Linked DNA regions of Homo sapiens. The protein of the gene in region 1 interacts with the protein of each later gene in a pairwise test. Each region holds a gene or a part of one and is shown on either strand. Other genes may lie near its edges. The genes, in order: MYH7 and MYBPC3.

Evidence for each region.
Region 2: the proteins of MYH7 (region 1) and MYBPC3 interact in a two-hybrid assay, tested with the Homo sapiens proteins (2 studies listed by IntAct).

Annotation. Positions count from the first base shown.
Region 1 is NC_000014.9:23,432,661-23,441,797, reverse strand, and holds the start of MYH7 (myosin-7), read left to right. Parts: upstream 1-6,137; 5' UTR 6,138-6,178; intron 6,179-7,548; 5' UTR 7,549-7,604; intron 7,605-8,057; 5' UTR 8,058-8,065; coding exon 8,066-8,266; intron 8,267-8,570; coding exon 8,571-8,714; intron 8,715-9,002; coding exon 9,003-9,137. UniProt on the Homo sapiens protein: Myosins are actin-based motor molecules with ATPase activity essential for muscle contraction. Forms regular bipolar thick filaments that, together with actin thin filaments, constitute the fundamental contractile unit of skeletal and cardiac muscle.
Region 2 is NC_000011.10:47,342,703-47,349,702, forward strand, and holds part of MYBPC3 (myosin-binding protein C, cardiac-type), read right to left. Parts: intron 5,840-7,000; coding exon 5,722-5,839; intron 5,204-5,721; coding exon 5,155-5,203; intron 4,979-5,154; coding exon 4,949-4,978; intron 4,778-4,948; coding exon 4,724-4,777; intron 4,328-4,723; coding exon 4,325-4,327; intron 3,943-4,324; coding exon 3,925-3,942; intron 3,669-3,924; coding exon 3,505-3,668; intron 923-3,504; coding exon 790-922; intron 561-789; coding exon 558-560; intron 444-557; coding exon 319-443; intron 234-318; coding exon 128-233; intron 43-127; coding exon 1-42. UniProt on the Homo sapiens protein: Thick filament-associated protein located in the crossbridge region of vertebrate striated muscle a bands. In vitro it binds MHC, F-actin and native thin filaments, and modifies the activity of actin-activated myosin ATPase.

The DNA.
Region 1 (9,137 bases):
GATCATTCGCTAGGGCTACTCCCTGCCCTCCAGCCCTACTTTAATCTTTATACGATGGAACTCAGGAGGCTGAGACCCTTCTCCAGCCAGTGAGTGGGCCCAATGATGACAGCCAGGGCTGTATCGAGCTCTGCCTTGAGCTCCCTACGTGCATATCTGAAGATGAGGAGGGAGCCAGCTGAGCCTCATGTTTGCAAGCCCACTTTCTGGTGGTGGGTACCCAAACTCTCTAGGCATTCTCAAAGCACCCCCCAGGCTTCCAAAAAGGGAGATGAGAATAAGAAAACAACCAGAAAGTGCAAAAGAAAATGGTGAACAAAACAAGGGCATCTTTTATTACCCCCTCTTCACATATTCTGGAATACCCTACCTTAAAAACAAAACAAACCGTGCTACTTGGCCCTCTTCCCTTGAGTTGTTGTCTAATCTCATTCATTTCACTGCCAAACTCCTCAAATGCATGGTGTACACCCACTGCTTCCACTTCCTGTCCACTCATCTTTTTCCTCATTAACTCCCTGTGGCCTGGCTTTGCCTGTGACACTACACAAGCTGCTTGCTCCAAGATAATCCAAGTTCTTTTCTCTGTCTTCCTGATACACAGGCTTTCTTTGGCATCTGACACTGCTGGCCACCTGCTCTTCTTGAAATGCTTCTTTTGGCTTCTAGGAAACTGCCCATTTCTCACTCTCCTTAGCTGTCTTTGAATCTCCTTCTCTTCTCTGCGGGCTTCTCTTCCTTCTCCCATCGCTGTACTGTGGGTATCTCCCAGGCCTTTCCTCTTCTCTCCAACCTCATGGCTTCTTTCACATCCCCCGAGGTAGTCAGCCCTCTTTATCCAGTTCTGCCCACTGGTCTCATAGCTCCAGCTTCCTTCAGGAAAGCAAAACATCTTCCATTGGTTGCCCCACTCTTACCTCCATTTCCCCCAAACGGAACACTGTCCTTCCTCCTACGTGTCCCTTTTGCCATTATTCCCATCCTTGCCGACATCGTGCAGTCATGCCTCTCCCTTCCTCATTTCTTGCGTCCAGGCTGTTAGCAAGGCATTTTATTCCTTCTTTAGAAAGGCCTTCCAGCCTTGCCTTTCCGCTTCATGCTGCTGGTCTCGCTTTCCTGCCAACGTTGATGGCTACTGTATCCTCCTCTCGGGTCTCCCTGCCTCCAGCCTCTCTTCCGCAAAGCACCCAATAATACCCCTGCTAGGCCCATCAAACTCTGGTTTCAAGACATCACAATGACTGCCATGGTTTAGAACTTTAGTCATTCCTCATTGCTTCCAGGGTATTATCCATTTTGCTGTCCTGGGAAACAGGGCAGAGTCCGTAGAAAGCCCTTTGAGCAAGACAGACCTGGGTCTGAATCCCAGTGCCACGTTTGCTACTTACCTTGAGCAAACATCTTAGCCTCTCTGAACCCCATTGCTCCTCCATAAAACACAATTAAAGTGACACACAATTGTGAACATGTGTGAGATCATGGTGTATAAAACACTGTGCACCTGGCACAGGTGGTCACTCAATATGTATATAGCCCTTTCCCCTCTCCGACATTGGGGCCCTACCTTTTTTTCCTTCCACCTATGTCTCCAGATCCCCCATACGCATAGCCTCATCAGGCATGTGTCCTCCGAGTCCTTATGAACTCACCACACCGTTCCCCTTCCATGCCTTTGGTCACTCTGTGATTCTCATTGCCCAGAACATATCCTGATACTCAGTGCTTCTTAAAGCCCTCCCCTCACCAAGCTCCACTGTCATGTCCCCATCTTGAAAGCTTATTTTATTTTATTTTATTTTGGGACAGAGTCTCACTCTGTCCAGACTGGAGTGCAGTGGTGCGATCTCAGCTCACTTCAACCTCCGATTCCCAGATTCAAGTGATTCTCATGCTTCAGCGATTCTCATGCCTCCTGAGTAGCTGGGACTACAGGAGTGCACCACCATGCCCGGCTAATTTTTGTATTTTTTGTAGAGACGGGGTTTCACTATGTTGGTCAGGCTAGTCTCAAACTCCTGACCTCAAGTTATCTGCCTGCCTCAGCCTCTCAAACTGCTGTGATTACAGGTGTGAGCCACCAACGCCCAGCCTGCTCCTATCTGGTGGCCTGACCAATGTCACCACTTGGCCTGGGTCAACTCCTGCTGGACCTCAGGACACACTGGCTTGTCATGAGGGAAGCTCAGTGGGCAGCAGTCAAGCAGTGATGCCTATCCCAGCTCAGGGCTGGACTGTGGGCCTAGACTGAGTCTAGGACAGTCTGAGAACCTTGGCCTCCTGGCATGACGTTCCCAAGGGCAGTCACAGTCTGGGTAGAGCCGACCACAAGACTGCAGGATTTCTGATCTACTCTGGTCCAGACCATCCTTTGAACCAAGTGGACTTAGTGGGGCTGAAGGAGGTGTGGGGACAAAGAACCTATGGCAGGGCAACCGGCCCTCCTGTCTGCAGCCTGGCTTCCTCAATTTTGTGTTCCTAACCTAAGAGCTGCCATTCAGTGAGGGCCCACAGTGTGTCTGCTGTGTGTAGACTCTGCTTGTGCAATCTCTAATGGCCTGAGTAGCCCTGGAAACAAAATGTGGCTATCCCCATGTTACAGATGACAAAACTGGCTCAAAGCAATTATATGACTGACGTAGACCACACAGCTAGAAAATGGAATCACTGGGTTTCAAAGTGGATTTTTGTGACTGACTCCAAAGCTGACCAGACTGCTCATCCTGTATGCTTCTGAGGCCTCTGGCCCTCCAGACCGGTCACTCCCCACAAAGTCTCCCTTTTGGTGAGTTGTGTCCCTCCAAACACTCCCTGAAGGCAAGATCAACCTGCCCTAACTACCCCAAAGTGAACTAGGCCAGCCCCAAGCCTGTCTCCGGCCCTCCATCTCTCTCTTTGTTCACATCCATCAGAAAGCAGAGACCTAGAGTAGGGAATGAGAGGGGGTGCACAAGTACAAAAGATTTTGAAGCCAGCAGGAAGACAAAAGAATGACAAGAAGGAGCAGCTGTTTGTAAAGGGAAATCTGAGACAGGCAGAAAGCTCAGCTCCCTAATCCTAGGCTCGTGTGGAGCCAGGGCAGGGTCCCCCCAAGGTCAGGGATTCTGGGGGCAGGCGGATGGGAGAGTCAGCCTCCACTCCTGGGTGGCTCCCCTCTGCCCTGTGCACAAACAACGAGTGCCTCATTCCTCCCCTGCACCAAGTGCCCTGCCTCTTCCTGCCCCGTTTCTTCCTTCCCTTTGGGTACCGGAGCTTTTTTCTGATTCCCCTCTCTCCATGCTGACATCGCTTCTAATTCGCCCTGGTGTCTCCCTCCCTCACAATTACTGGGAGTAATTTTAGCAACTTTTCCTCTGAACTACCGCTGGCGTGTTCACAGCAAATGGCCCCTGTTTTGGCTTGACACTTGATCAGGGTGGTGACAGAGTGCAGACAAAGCCGGCACAATGCGGGGAGGGGAGGACGGGGGACAGATCACCTTCCTTTCACTTCAGGCCTTATTTGGTCTACCTTGCCGAAGCGGCCCTCCTTCCAGCCTCTCTTTATTTATAGCATTTTGCTTTGCTCTCCTTTATCTTGCTATCACTTTGTAGCACACTCTGCACAATCCCCACCCACCCCAGCATGGTGGGGCCCCTGGCCCCTCACTCTCCCCACAAGGAATGTGCATGTGTGCAAAGGGTAGGCCTGGATGCCATTTCTACAAACAGTTGACTAAAGCAGTCCAGAGCAGGGATCTTTCTTTGGGTCATTGTTATGTCCTTATTGACCAGAATAATGCCTGGCACATAGTAGGCACTCAATAAATACTTGTTGAATGGAGGAATCTGCAAAGCTGCTCAGTCTTCAGACAGCAGCAAGCAGCAGGAAGAGAATCATGATGTAACCAAGAGCAGGTGCTGGAGGAGCTAGGGAGTGAGTGGGGATCTTTAAGGACAGCAGGCCCTCTGATCTGTCTGAGCTGTGAGGCAAAGCCTAGTTAGGGAGGTGAGTTCTATCTGCAATGAGAGGGGGCATGGGTGGAGAACAGTAACACCCAAACACCAACAGACCAGAGCCTCCCAAACCCGAAAGGAGAGAAACAAAGTGTGATTGATTTCCCAAATGCAGAAAAGACTACCCAAGTCCCCAGCCAAGGAAGGACGCTGGCCTGTGGTGAAGACACTGGCTTTGAAATGGCTCAACTACGTCCCAAGCACCCTTTGTGCATCTTAATTGCCCTGGGAAATCAGGGAGGGGTGGCAGTTTGGAGCTTGGAAAGCTGGAAGGTGGGGACGAAAGGAGTTTTTGCCCCTCATCGCCAATCCTTGAGGTTCCTACAGGGAACCTCAGACAACAGCTGTCTTAGGGGTTTCCTTCCAGCTCCAAGCAGCTGTATTATCTATAGCTTTGAGAGGGTCTGTCTCTGTCAATGGGGCTGATTCCTCAGCACCTGGCAGGGCCTGGGGGGGACTGCCAGAGTCTGTTCTGCCGGGCATGTTAGTAGCACAGACTACTGGGATAACCTCAGCAACTGTATACCTTAGCACTGCAGAGCTGCGGTGTTGTCAGACACAGCCCTTGCAGTTCGTGGTCTACCCCCACTTGCCTGCACCCCCCTTATAGCTGCTCAATGTCCTCAGACTGTACCTTAGTGCCTTGGTTACCAAGCAACCCCCACAGAGGCCTCCTCCTGGATTTTCCCTTCCCTGCTATGCCCACCCCACCTTCAAAATGTACCTGCTGCACCCATCCCCCAGGCCTGCCTCACTCCTTCCAAGCTGACAGCTAATCAGATGGACTAATCCGCATGCGCGGAAGAGCTGTGCTTGGGAAGAAGGGGGAGATTTCACACCAAATCGTGCAGTGGTTGCCTAGACACGGAGCCAGTCAAGCTTGCATGCCCCGTTGCTAGAAGAGCATGGCATCGGTTGTGTTCTGTGCTCGTAGGCTGGGCCCCAGCTCCCTTTCCTCCCCTCCTTTGTGGCTGTTCCTCAGGCCTGCAGAGGGGAAGATTTTTCCTGTCCTGTTACTCTGCCTCACTTGCCAGAACACTAGTCGCCTCCAGCTCTGGATAAAGCTGAGGCTGGGTGGGCCAGACAACAGCTGTCTTAGGGGTCTCCTTCCAGCTCCAAGTAGTTGTATTATCTATAGCTCTGAGAGGGTCTGTCTCTGGGCTCAGGCCTTTAGTACCTGTGGGGCAGAGCCAGGAACGTGAGTCAGGCAAACCGCTCCAAACTAGGACCAATGCAGCTGGGTCCTGCTCTCTGCGCATAGGGGGTCCCCACATCTTTGGAATCCCAGCCCACCTTTCCAGGCTACCCTCCACAGGCCGGGCTCCACTCCCATCTGCTGAGGTTTCCCACCTTGAATCCTGCTGCCCCGATTAGCTGTATAACCTTAAAGAATGCACTGTCCCTCTCCATTAAATGAAGTGCTTGGATGGATTGCTAAAGGCCTGTCTGGCTCGGAGGCTTGGTGACCTCAACACATTGCCTGCTGGTCCAAGGAAATCAGTGCCTGAGCCAGAGTCCCCATCTCTAAGCTCCATGGTTATTGTTCTTGCCACCTGGCTAGGAAATGTCCTTCCAGCTGCCCCAGTCTAGCTGCCTCACCCTGGGGCCATGCCCCCAACTCTGTCCTACCCTTCTCTGCTGCTGACACTCAGCCCCTTCCCAGCTTCCAGTTGGATACAGGACCTGGGCCAGGAGAGCAGGGAGGACACTGTGGAAATGCGGCCAGGCCATCAGGGGCCTCGCAGCAGGGGACTGGAGGGGGAGCAGTGTCCAGGGCCAGAAGTGCCCTGCGGGAGAGCCAGGACATTGGCTGCCTGTGGTCTTGGTGGTCGTGGTCAGTTCCCTCTCCTGCCAGCTGTGGAATGTGAGGCCTGGCCTGGGAGATATTTTTGCTGCACTTTGAGCCACCCCGCCCCCTGGAACTCAGACCCTGCACAGTCCATGCCATAACAATGACGACCACTTCCAATTGTTTCCTAGCTGGAGAGGCGGGGAGGGGAGCACTGTTTGGGAAGGGGGGGAGCCTGGGGGAAATGCTTCTAGTGACAACAGCCCTTTCTAAATCCGGCTAGGGACTGGGTGCCGTTGGGGGTGGGGGTGCCCTGCTGCCCCATATATACAGCCCCTGAGACCAGGTCTGGCTCCACAGCTCTGTCCTGCTCTGTGTCTTTCCCTGCTGCTCTCAGGTAGGAGCGGGAGCTGGAGGCTTTACTCTGGGATAAGGGGGCTCCAGGCTTAGGAAGGGATTCCTCTTGGAATAGCAAGCTTCATGCAGGACTTCATGCAGAGTACCAGGTCCAGTCACTGGGCACACATGTGCAGGTCTAAACATGGGCGTATGTGCCACAGGAGTTCCTAGGGGAAGATATCTGCATCTGAGCATATGGGACCAATATGCATTACAGGGTGTGTGTGTGTGTGTGTGTGTGTGTGTGTGTGTGGACAAGCCTGCATAGTCTGAATGTGAGAAAGGGTATGTACCTCACTGACTGATACAGAAATATCAAGTGGGAGATGTGGGTGTATGATCACGTCTGTGAACGAGGAGGTTCCTTTGCAGGGAGGGAGAAAGAATGGTGGAGAAGGATTCTAGGAAGTGTGTATGCCTTCATGTGATTCTGTGAGGCCTGGAATGTGTAGCTACCCCTGTCCATGCATGCAGAGGTTCTTGTCTATGCCTCCACGAGTCATGACTGTTATAGTATCTGTACCCTCTGCAGAAGGAACTCACAGGCACGGGGGTGTAGGATGTTCCAGGTCTTTGTGTACTGAAGAACACGCAGTGATGTGATCTACTTACGTGGCACACATCCTGAAATGTGCACATTTGCTGTTGAGGCATATATGGCACCCTGGGGTTGGGGTGCGGATTGAGGTATGGGAAGGAAGCCTGTCTTCATGTGAGAGGCATGCCCAAGCAGCAGGCATGAGTGTTCATCAGAGGGCTTGTGGAGGGTGTTTGGCTATGTGATGGGTGTGTCTGTGAGAGGAAGCCCACAGTGTCTTCTCTCTGAGAATGTCCACAAAGTCTGACAACAAAATGGGGACAGGATGGAAAAGAAGTCTCTTTAGAGTCATCAGACTTGCATTCAAGTCTTGGCTCTCCCACTTGTTGTCATGGGCTCTTGGCCAAGCAAGCCATTTAACCTCGATTTCCTCATCTGTCAAATGGGGTGAAGACTGAGTAGGAGAAAGTGCATTGAAGTGCTTTTAGACTGGAAAGTGCCGAACAAATGTGACCATTAGTTGTCTCTCAGATGGCTCAAAGAAAGGTACCACTAGATGGGTACAGGCAGGGGTGGGACCATCTCGCAGGAGTGAAGAGGATTAGGGTTCAGGTTGAGTTGACACCAGGAAGCTGTTAGAACTAGTTCTTGAGGAAAAAGGGAATAGGGTTTGAAAAACAAGAAGGATGGGACCAGAGAAGCTGACCACCCTTTCCACCTTGTTTTGGAAGAGGGTGGATGCTGAAGAACAGAGCCAGGGAGAAGCAGGAAGGTGGGACTGGTCAGGTTGGGCACAGCCTGCCCTGACACAGCCTCTTCCCTCTCTCCAGGTCCCCTGCAGGCCTTGGCCCCTTTCCTCATCTGTAGACACACTTGAGTAGCCCAGGTAAGAAAAGCTGAAGCTAGAGTGTTGAAAATCTAGTAAGACTGGGCATTAGAGCCCCAAAGCCAGCCTATGGAACTCTAGTTTCTGCCATGTGCTGGAGAGAATATCTTGGCTATCAAGAGCTACTTACCTGTGACCAGGGGGTCCAGGGATAGATGAGGGTCAGAGATGGAAATAGTTAGATTTCTGCTCCTACAGGGAGCTCAGAATGCTCTTCCTTCCCCTAGGAGAGCCCCAGCTTGAACAATAGTTAGTTGTTCCTTTTACCCTGGCAGGTTTGCTAGGCTGCTCCTCTGGTTAAGGGGTAACCTCAAAGAGGAAGGGACTCACTGGTAACTCCTCTTGACTCTTGAGCATGGTGCTAGGTTTTGGGGCTCCCACTGAAGGGGAGAGCCCAGGGAGGGAAGGGAAGAATGGGCAGATGGGAGGGCAGCCAGCTTCTGCTCACTCCAGGCACAGCCATGGGAGATTCGGAGATGGCAGTCTTTGGGGCTGCCGCCCCCTACCTGCGCAAGTCAGAGAAGGAGCGGCTAGAAGCGCAGACCAGGCCTTTTGACCTCAAGAAGGATGTCTTCGTGCCTGATGACAAACAGGAGTTTGTCAAGGCCAAGATCGTGTCTCGAGAGGGTGGCAAAGTCACTGCCGAGACCGAGTATGGCAAGGTGGGTGTCAGGCTGATGTGAGAGTCCACCCTGGCCACCTGTACACCTGGGTGGACAGAGAGGGGTACACCCATGCCCCATGCCCATGCAGACCTGAGGATGGTCCCATTCTCCTTCCCTTTGGGGAAGAATCCAGACCCTCCAAAGAGCCCTCTCCTTCCCAATATCCCTTCTGTCTTCCCTGTGAGATCCTGGTTCCTTCTCTCTTGAGCACTATTGCCCTGTCACTCACCAACTCCTAACCCTCTTGAGGAAGGAGGGAAAGCCCAGGCTGACAGGAGGGCTTGGGTGGGGGCTCTTGCAGACAGTGACCGTGAAGGAGGACCAGGTGATGCAGCAGAACCCACCCAAGTTCGACAAAATCGAGGACATGGCCATGCTGACCTTCCTGCATGAGCCCGCGGTGCTCTACAACCTCAAGGATCGCTACGGCTCCTGGATGATCTACGTGAGTGCTGCACCTGGCCCTACGTTGGGATCTCTGTTCTTGCTCCATCCATGTCCACCCCAGGAGCCAAGAGTGTCTTCTGTTTGTGTCTAGGCAGGGTTACACTCTAACCTCGTCCCAACATCCTTGGTTCAATTCCAACACTCTGGGGACTGGCATTACTCAGATTGAGTGCATGCAGAGGTTTTCCTTTCTCTTCTTTCTCTCCTGGGATCTTTCTCTAACTCCCAAAATCACCAGCCCTCCCCCTTCGCAACTGGCAAGTCACTGCTCCTTTTCTATCCCCAGACCTACTCGGGCCTCTTCTGTGTCACCGTCAACCCTTACAAGTGGCTGCCGGTGTACACTCCTGAGGTGGTGGCTGCCTACCGGGGCAAGAAGAGGAGCGAGGCCCCGCCCCACATCTTCTCCATCTCCGACAAC
Region 2 (7,000 bases), on another chromosome or scaffold:
TTGAAGGTCTCCTCCCGGGTCAGCTCCACCCCGTCCTTCAGCCTAGCCGGGTGGGTGGGTGGCAAGTGCTGTGGCCTCTTCTGGGCAGATGCCCCCAACACCCATGCCCCGTGCTTCTGGAACTCACCATTTGACTTGCGCCCCCTCCTCCGATACTTCACACTCAAACTCCACCCGCTGCCCCACCATCACCAGCTGGTCCTCCAAGGGGCGCGTGATGAGCACAGGGGGCTCTGTCCAGGCAGGGTGAGCATGAGGGTTGGCTCCCCTGAGGCCATCTCCTCCCCAGGTTCCCACATCCTCAGGTCCCAGGCCCACCTTTCACAAAGAGCTCCGTGCTACACTTCTCGCCACCCACCACGCACTGGTAGGCTGCGTCGTCCGCCAATGAGCACTGGCTGATGGTCAGGGTACGCTTGGCACCGATGGACTCAAAGATGTACCTGGGTGGGGGCCGCAGGGAAGTGGCAGGAAAGCTGCGGACACCCCTCCGGGCCCAGTGCGCCCCATGATAATCCCTGTGCCCCCCACCCCAAGCCATCCAGAGGGGAACTTACTTGCTGTAGAACAGAAGGGGCCGTTGAAGTGTTCCCGACGGGAGGAAGTGAGCCCGAGACAAAAGGAGAGAGAGAGAGGGACCGGCAGGAGCAAAAGGATGGGAAATTAGGCCCAGAGAGATGGGGCTGAGAGCCACACCGAGTCAGAGATACGCATGTGGAGAGGGGCAGGAGGCAAGGCTATGGGGGTCCCCACCTCCACCCGAGCCCCCCTCCCCACCCCAGGCTGCACCTGCCGCTCATCTGGATCTCCTGGCCATTCTTGAGCCATTTGACCTCAGCGTCATGGTCAGCCAGTTCCACGGTCAGCCGGATCTTGTGGCCTTTGCTCACCTGGTAGGCCGGCTCCAGCTTCTTCTGAAAGGCTGAGCACCACCCCTCAGCCCCGGCCACCCCACCGCCCGCACCCTGCTCCCCCAGGCCAAGCTACTGTGGCTGTGGCTGGGGCCCAGGTCCCCCCCTCCAATCCCCTCTGTGCCGCCCCGCTTCCACTTCTCTGTGTCTCTATTTCTTTTTGTTTTGTTTGTTTGTCTGTTTGTTTGTTTTTTGGACAGAGTCTTGCTCTGTTGGCCAGGCTGGAGTGCAATGGCGCCATCTTGGCTCACTGCAACCTCTGCCTCCCAGGTTCAAGTGATTCTCCTGCCTCGGCCTCCCGAGTAGCTGGGATTACAGGCATGTGCCACCACGCCCAGCTAATTTTTGTATTTTTAGTAGAGACGGGGTTTTACCATGTTGGCCGGGCTGGTCTTGAAATCCTGACCTCAGGTGATGCGCCCGCCTCAGCCTCCCAAAGTGCTGGGATTACAGGCATGGTGTCTTCATTTCTTTATCTGTGTCTATGTGTCAACCCACCTCCTTGTCTCTGTCTGTCTGACCTTGTCCTTCTGTCTTCCTTGGGGTCCTCTCCACCTGCTCAGCTCAGGGATTGGGTTAGGGGCTTCCAGAAAGACAGAAGCTTGTCAGGAGAACTGGGGCTGGGACAGCTGTGCCTTCTCTTCTCTCAGCAACCCCTGAGTTGTGTACTCTTCCCAGGCGCTCCCACCTAGCAGCCCTCTGTGCCCAGCACTCTCACTCCCATCTCAGCCCCCAGGGCCAGTGCGGTGGTCCCCATGCTGCTGCAGTGGGGGAAATAGGGCTCAGAGAGGCGACTGGCCCAATGCCACCAGCCCAGCAGGTGTGTGGCAGAGCTGGGTCTTGAGCCCAGCCCTGCTCCACAACAATGCCTCCTCTTGCGGCCGTGTTTGTAAAAGCCCATGTTGCTGCTGCTGAGCCCAGGGAGGAAGTGGGGGCTCCATCCACCGAGCAGAGAAGGACCCCTGAGTCCTCAAATACTCTGGCTGGGCCTGGAGTCAGCTGCGGAGGGGCAGAGATCTACTGCTGGGTGCTCTGTGACCTTGCGCTAGTTCCTTAAACCCTCTGTGCCTCGGTTTCCTCAGTAACATGGAAATGGTAATAGTCCTTCCATCATAGTGTTGTTTCGAGAATTAAATGAGATAATTACATAAAGCACCTAGTGGCTGGCTTAGGAAGGAACTCACTCACTTTTTTTGAGATGGAGTCTCATTCTGTCACCCAGGTTGGAGTGCAATGGCACAATCCTGACTCACTGCAACCTCTGCCTCCCGGGTTCAAGTGATTCTCCTGCCTCAGCCTCCGGAGTAGCTGGGATTACAGGCGCCTGCCACCATGCCCAGGTAATTTTGTATTTTTAGTAGAGACGGGGTTTCACCATGTTGGTCAGGCTGGTCTTGAACGCCTAACCTCAGGTGATCCACCTGCCTCGGCCTCCCAAAGTGCTGGGATTACAGGCGTGAGCCACTGCACCTGGCCAGCAATTTGCTCTTTTTACTGTTGTTGCTATTCCTGGAAGACACCCCTACCCTCGGAGGTCCCCATCTGCCTTGCCAGCCTCCATCTTTTCCTCCTTGGGCACCTACAGTCCTTTGCTTGGTGCCCTCTGGGCTCAGCAGTTCAGGAGTTAACCCAGAGGAACATTGGTGGCATTCAGGGGATCCCTGGCTTAAATGGGGCCACGGTGCCGGTAAGGGCCAGGCCACCTAGCGATGGGGTGATGGGAAACCCAGTGAGGCTGAGACAACAGGGAGGCAGGGCAGAGGGATAAGGGGCCTGGGGGAGGTCAGCAGGGAGGGACTAACCAGCTCCTCTCCCCGTCCCCATGATCGTGTGTGTTTTGTGTGTGTGCTTTGGGAGGGGCTTGTCTCCCATATCCTGCATGGAAGCTGACCCCTCCATTCAGTCGGTGTTTATAGAGCGCTCGAGGTGTGTGCCAGGCCCTGTGCTAGACCCAGACATGGTGGGGAGAAGGCATGTGAGACCCCTGCTTTCCCGGCTCACACCCGCCCTTGTCAACCCCTCAGTGGAGAAGGGCTATTCCTGGGCTCTCCTCTTTCCATCTGCCTGGGGGTGAGGGTAGTTAACCCAAGCCCTCCTGCTTTGTTTGCCTGAGAGAAAGATTAGCCAGGCTCTTTTCTTTGCCTGTGTGTGGCTCTCCAGGCTTAGCGGGCCTCTTCCCTTTTCTTTTGGGTGTGGAGAGGGTTAACCGGGCTTCATTTCTTTTCAGAAGAGGGTAGAGAAAGAAAGTGTAGCCTGATTTTTCCTTGGTGAGGAGGGTTAACCTGAGCTCTGTCCTTTTCCTTGTGGCTGTCCTGGCCTAACTTTTGCTCTTCTCTTCTATCTCTGTGGTAAGGGGCTAACCTGGGCATTCTTGGCTTTTTCTACACAAGGAGGGGTTAACCTGGGCTCTTCTTTCCTGTGAGTCTCTGTGCTAAGCCGGACTCCGCTCTTTCCATGTATGTGGACGAGGTGGGGGGCTAACCTGTGCCCTCTCCTCTCCCCTGTGGGGAAGGGCTAACCTATGCCCTCTCCTCTCCTGTGTAGGGAAGGGCTAGCCTGTGCCCTCTCCTCTCCCCTCTGAGGAAGGGCTAACCTGTGCTCTTCTTCTCATCGCGCCTCATGCCCTTGAGCCTCTTTAGCATGCCGCGCAGGTCAGTGACGCCGTACTGGAAGGCGATGCGCTCGTACTCAGATGGGGGTGCCTGCCGTAGGATCTCCCACACGTCCTCCTCTGCTGGTGCCTCCAGCTTCGAGTCCCTGTGTCCCGCAGTCTAGGCTGTGGCCGGGGGCAAGACTGCAGCCCCCTGGGCGGGGCTTCCTGGGCCCAGGACCAAGGAGCTGTAGCCACCCCTGTCCCTCTGCCCCTTCCCTTCTGGTGGGGCAGCTGGAGCTGCTCTGGGTCCCAGGCCAGGCAGGACTGGGGGCCAAGGGAGCTGAAGAGGGGCTGGGGATCTGGAGGGGCTCCTGGCAGAATTAGGGGTGATGAGGGTGCTGTGCTATGTTGGGCACTCACCTCGGGGTCCGGAAACTGCTGCTCCAGGGGTGGGGGTGGGAGAAAGGGTAGGTGGCACATGAGAGGTATGGCCACCTTCCCTCAAAGACCTGGACCCCACCCATGGGCCTTTACTTCCTCCCTATTTTCCGCACTTGCACTCCCTGTGTTGTGGGGCACCCATGCTGCTCCGGAGGCTCTGGCAGGACCTCCTGTGTGCATTACTTTTTCTTATCCCTCCTAAGCTCTGACAGATAGGTGGGTGGCAGGAGAAGCCCAAGGCACAGAGACTCACCCCTGTCCGTGGGGAGCCGCACCCTGCTCTGAGTCTCTCACCACAGCCTCTCAGAGAGGGGACGGGAATCCCCTCTGCACCCACCAGCGCCCTGCCGCCCCCAAACACCCAGACCCCGATTCTTACTCTCTGGGCCACAGCAGCAGCAGCCATAATGGAGGGGCCGGGGGAGAGGGAGAGAGAGGGCAGAGAGAACATAAGTCAGTTGGGCCGACCTGGTAGACCCTGCAGCTCTGGGGACCCTCTCTCTGTTCCTTCTGGGTCCCCGGAGTTTACGGAGGGAGCTTTTGCAGCCTCAAGTGTGGAGTGGCCGTGGGGGACACTGTGAGGATGACTGTTGACGGGACATAATGTCTGCAGAGCCCTTTAACTCCTTCCACACTGGGATCATCCCCTCGACAGACAAGGAAACCAACTCAGAGAGGTGCAGTGTTGTGCTCAGGGTCACACAGCTGGCAAACCACAGTGCTGGGATTTGGAGCCAGGCCTCACCAGCTGCCCCAGGAACTGCCACCCAGGACTCACCTCTTTTTCAGCAGTGAGCTGAAGTCCAGAATCCCAGTGTCCTCATGGCTATCACTATGGAGAGGGACCCCCAGTGAGGCTGCAGTGAGGGACTGGAAAGGGATTAGGAGCAGGATGGGAGTGGAGTGGGGAGGGAGAAAGGGACACTAGCCAGATTGGGCTCCCACCCGTCTCAGACCCCTGGGGGTCTGCGGATGGTGCAGGTAGGGCCTGGGGCAGGGGTACCTGATCCGCCGACCACCTCCAGCCAGGCTCCTGTGGGGGTTAGACTCAGTATCCTCACCTGCCTGGGAAGCTTGCTCTCCCCTGCAGCCCCCACTGACTTCAGCTCCGCCCCGCAAATCATCCCCAGCCCTGACCCCCAGTCGAGACCCTGAAGGGCCTCAGACTCCAGCACTGGCCTCCCCCAGGCCCTGAGGATGGCCACTCACGTGCGGCGGAAGGCTGATAGGAGGTCCAGGTCTCCGGTGCCCATGGCCTCTGGGTTCAAAGGGTGGAGAGATGGGGGAAGGGGCTTCAGAGGGGGCCGTTTGAGAAGCCCTGCCCTGGGGGCGGCCTCTGAGTATTCACAGACTTGCCCATTCATGACCCCATGAGGCTGGGCATCTGCCCCAGGATCTCACCTTCCCAGCCTTTCCCAGGGTCAAGGTACCAGGCAGGTGGGACGGTTTATTGTCCCCAATTCCCACCCATCTCTCAACTCACCTTCACCCATCGCCCAAACATTCAGACAGTGCCAGGCCATGGGCCAGGAGCCGTGACACCAAGATGATAAAACAGAGTCCCACCCAGATGAGACCCGGACTCAGCCCTAAGCCCCCACGCCTACCCTGCAAGCCTTGGGGTTTCTCTCACACCCTGTGTGTGCAGCACTGGGCACGTGGCCAGCACTCATGTCTGGATGGGACGAGGCATCCTCCTTAGTGTTGGGAAAAGGAGGTAGGAGACCAGGACCCATGGGGAGCCCGAGCCCAGGACAGACACCAGGGCCCCCTCACCGTGGACAGTGAGATTGAAGTTGGAGCAGTCAAATTTGTCCTTGGTGGACACCTCACAGCGGTAGCTGCCAGTGAAGGCAGGCTGGGCATCGGTGATGTGCAGCTCGAACAGATAGACCTGTGTGCATGGAGGGACGGGGCGTCAGGGGACACCAGGGGCCGGGAGACAAGGCTCCGCACCCTTAAAGGAGACTGGGAGTGGCCGGGCGCGGTGGCTCAGGCCTGTAATCCCCACTTTGGGAGGCTGAGGCGGGCGGATCACATAAGACCAGGAGCTCCAGACCAGCCTGGCCAACGTGGTGAAATTCCGTCTCTACTAAAAATAACGAAAATTAGCCAAGTATGGTGGTGCACACCTCTAGTTTCAGCTACTCGGGAGGCTGAGGTGGGAGAATCGCTTGAACCCAGGAGGTGGAGGTTGCAGTGAGCCGAGATTGAGCCACTGCACTCCAGCCTGAGCGACAGAGCGAGACCCTGTCTCAAATTATATATATATATATATATTTAAAGGAGGCTGGGAGTGACAAATGCTCATCGATCTTCGCACCCTCAGGCTTTAGTTAACCCATACAGAGTTTTTGTACAGAGAAAGGGGACTATCTCGAAACCCATGATTGCCATCTGCTGGCACATGGTTGTGGTGAAATACAGGCTTTTGTGCAATGCACAGCCCCGCACAGCAGAACATGTTGGCCTCTCTTGCTAGAGGCCCCCTTGCCTAGCCCAGGACTGGGGAAGGTTGGGAAAAGCAGAGGCTTGGAGTGAACAAACAAGGGGACTTAAGCCTTAAGGTTCTGGTGGGCAGGGCGGAAAAAAACAAAACACAAAAAACGAAGGCTTAAGGTTCTAGGCCTATGTCTAAGTGACCTTGGAGCAGCCACTTAACCTCTCAAGCTTTGGTTTCCGTGTCTGTATAATGAGGAATTGTTCTGGTTAATCCCTGAGAGTCCCTTGAGCCCTTAGCCCTGATACTCACCCATCCAGGGGCTTTACAACCCCACTAGCTGGTGCCCCCATGCTTCACAGTGTCCTCCAGGCTTCCTGACCACCCTGGGCGACCCCCCACCCCCGGCCAAACCTTATTAGGTGCCCCCTTGAGGTGATCATGTCCACCAAGTCTCCCAGGTCCCCGACAGTGCTCCCATGAGCCTCATCGCACTCCCTGGCCCCCAGGCCTCCGGGATCTCCCTGTGGGCCCCTGGCCCCTCCACCTGCCTCCCAGATTCCCCACACCCCTTGCTTGCAGCTCGTGTGTGCCTCTGGGTCTCATGGTGCCCTC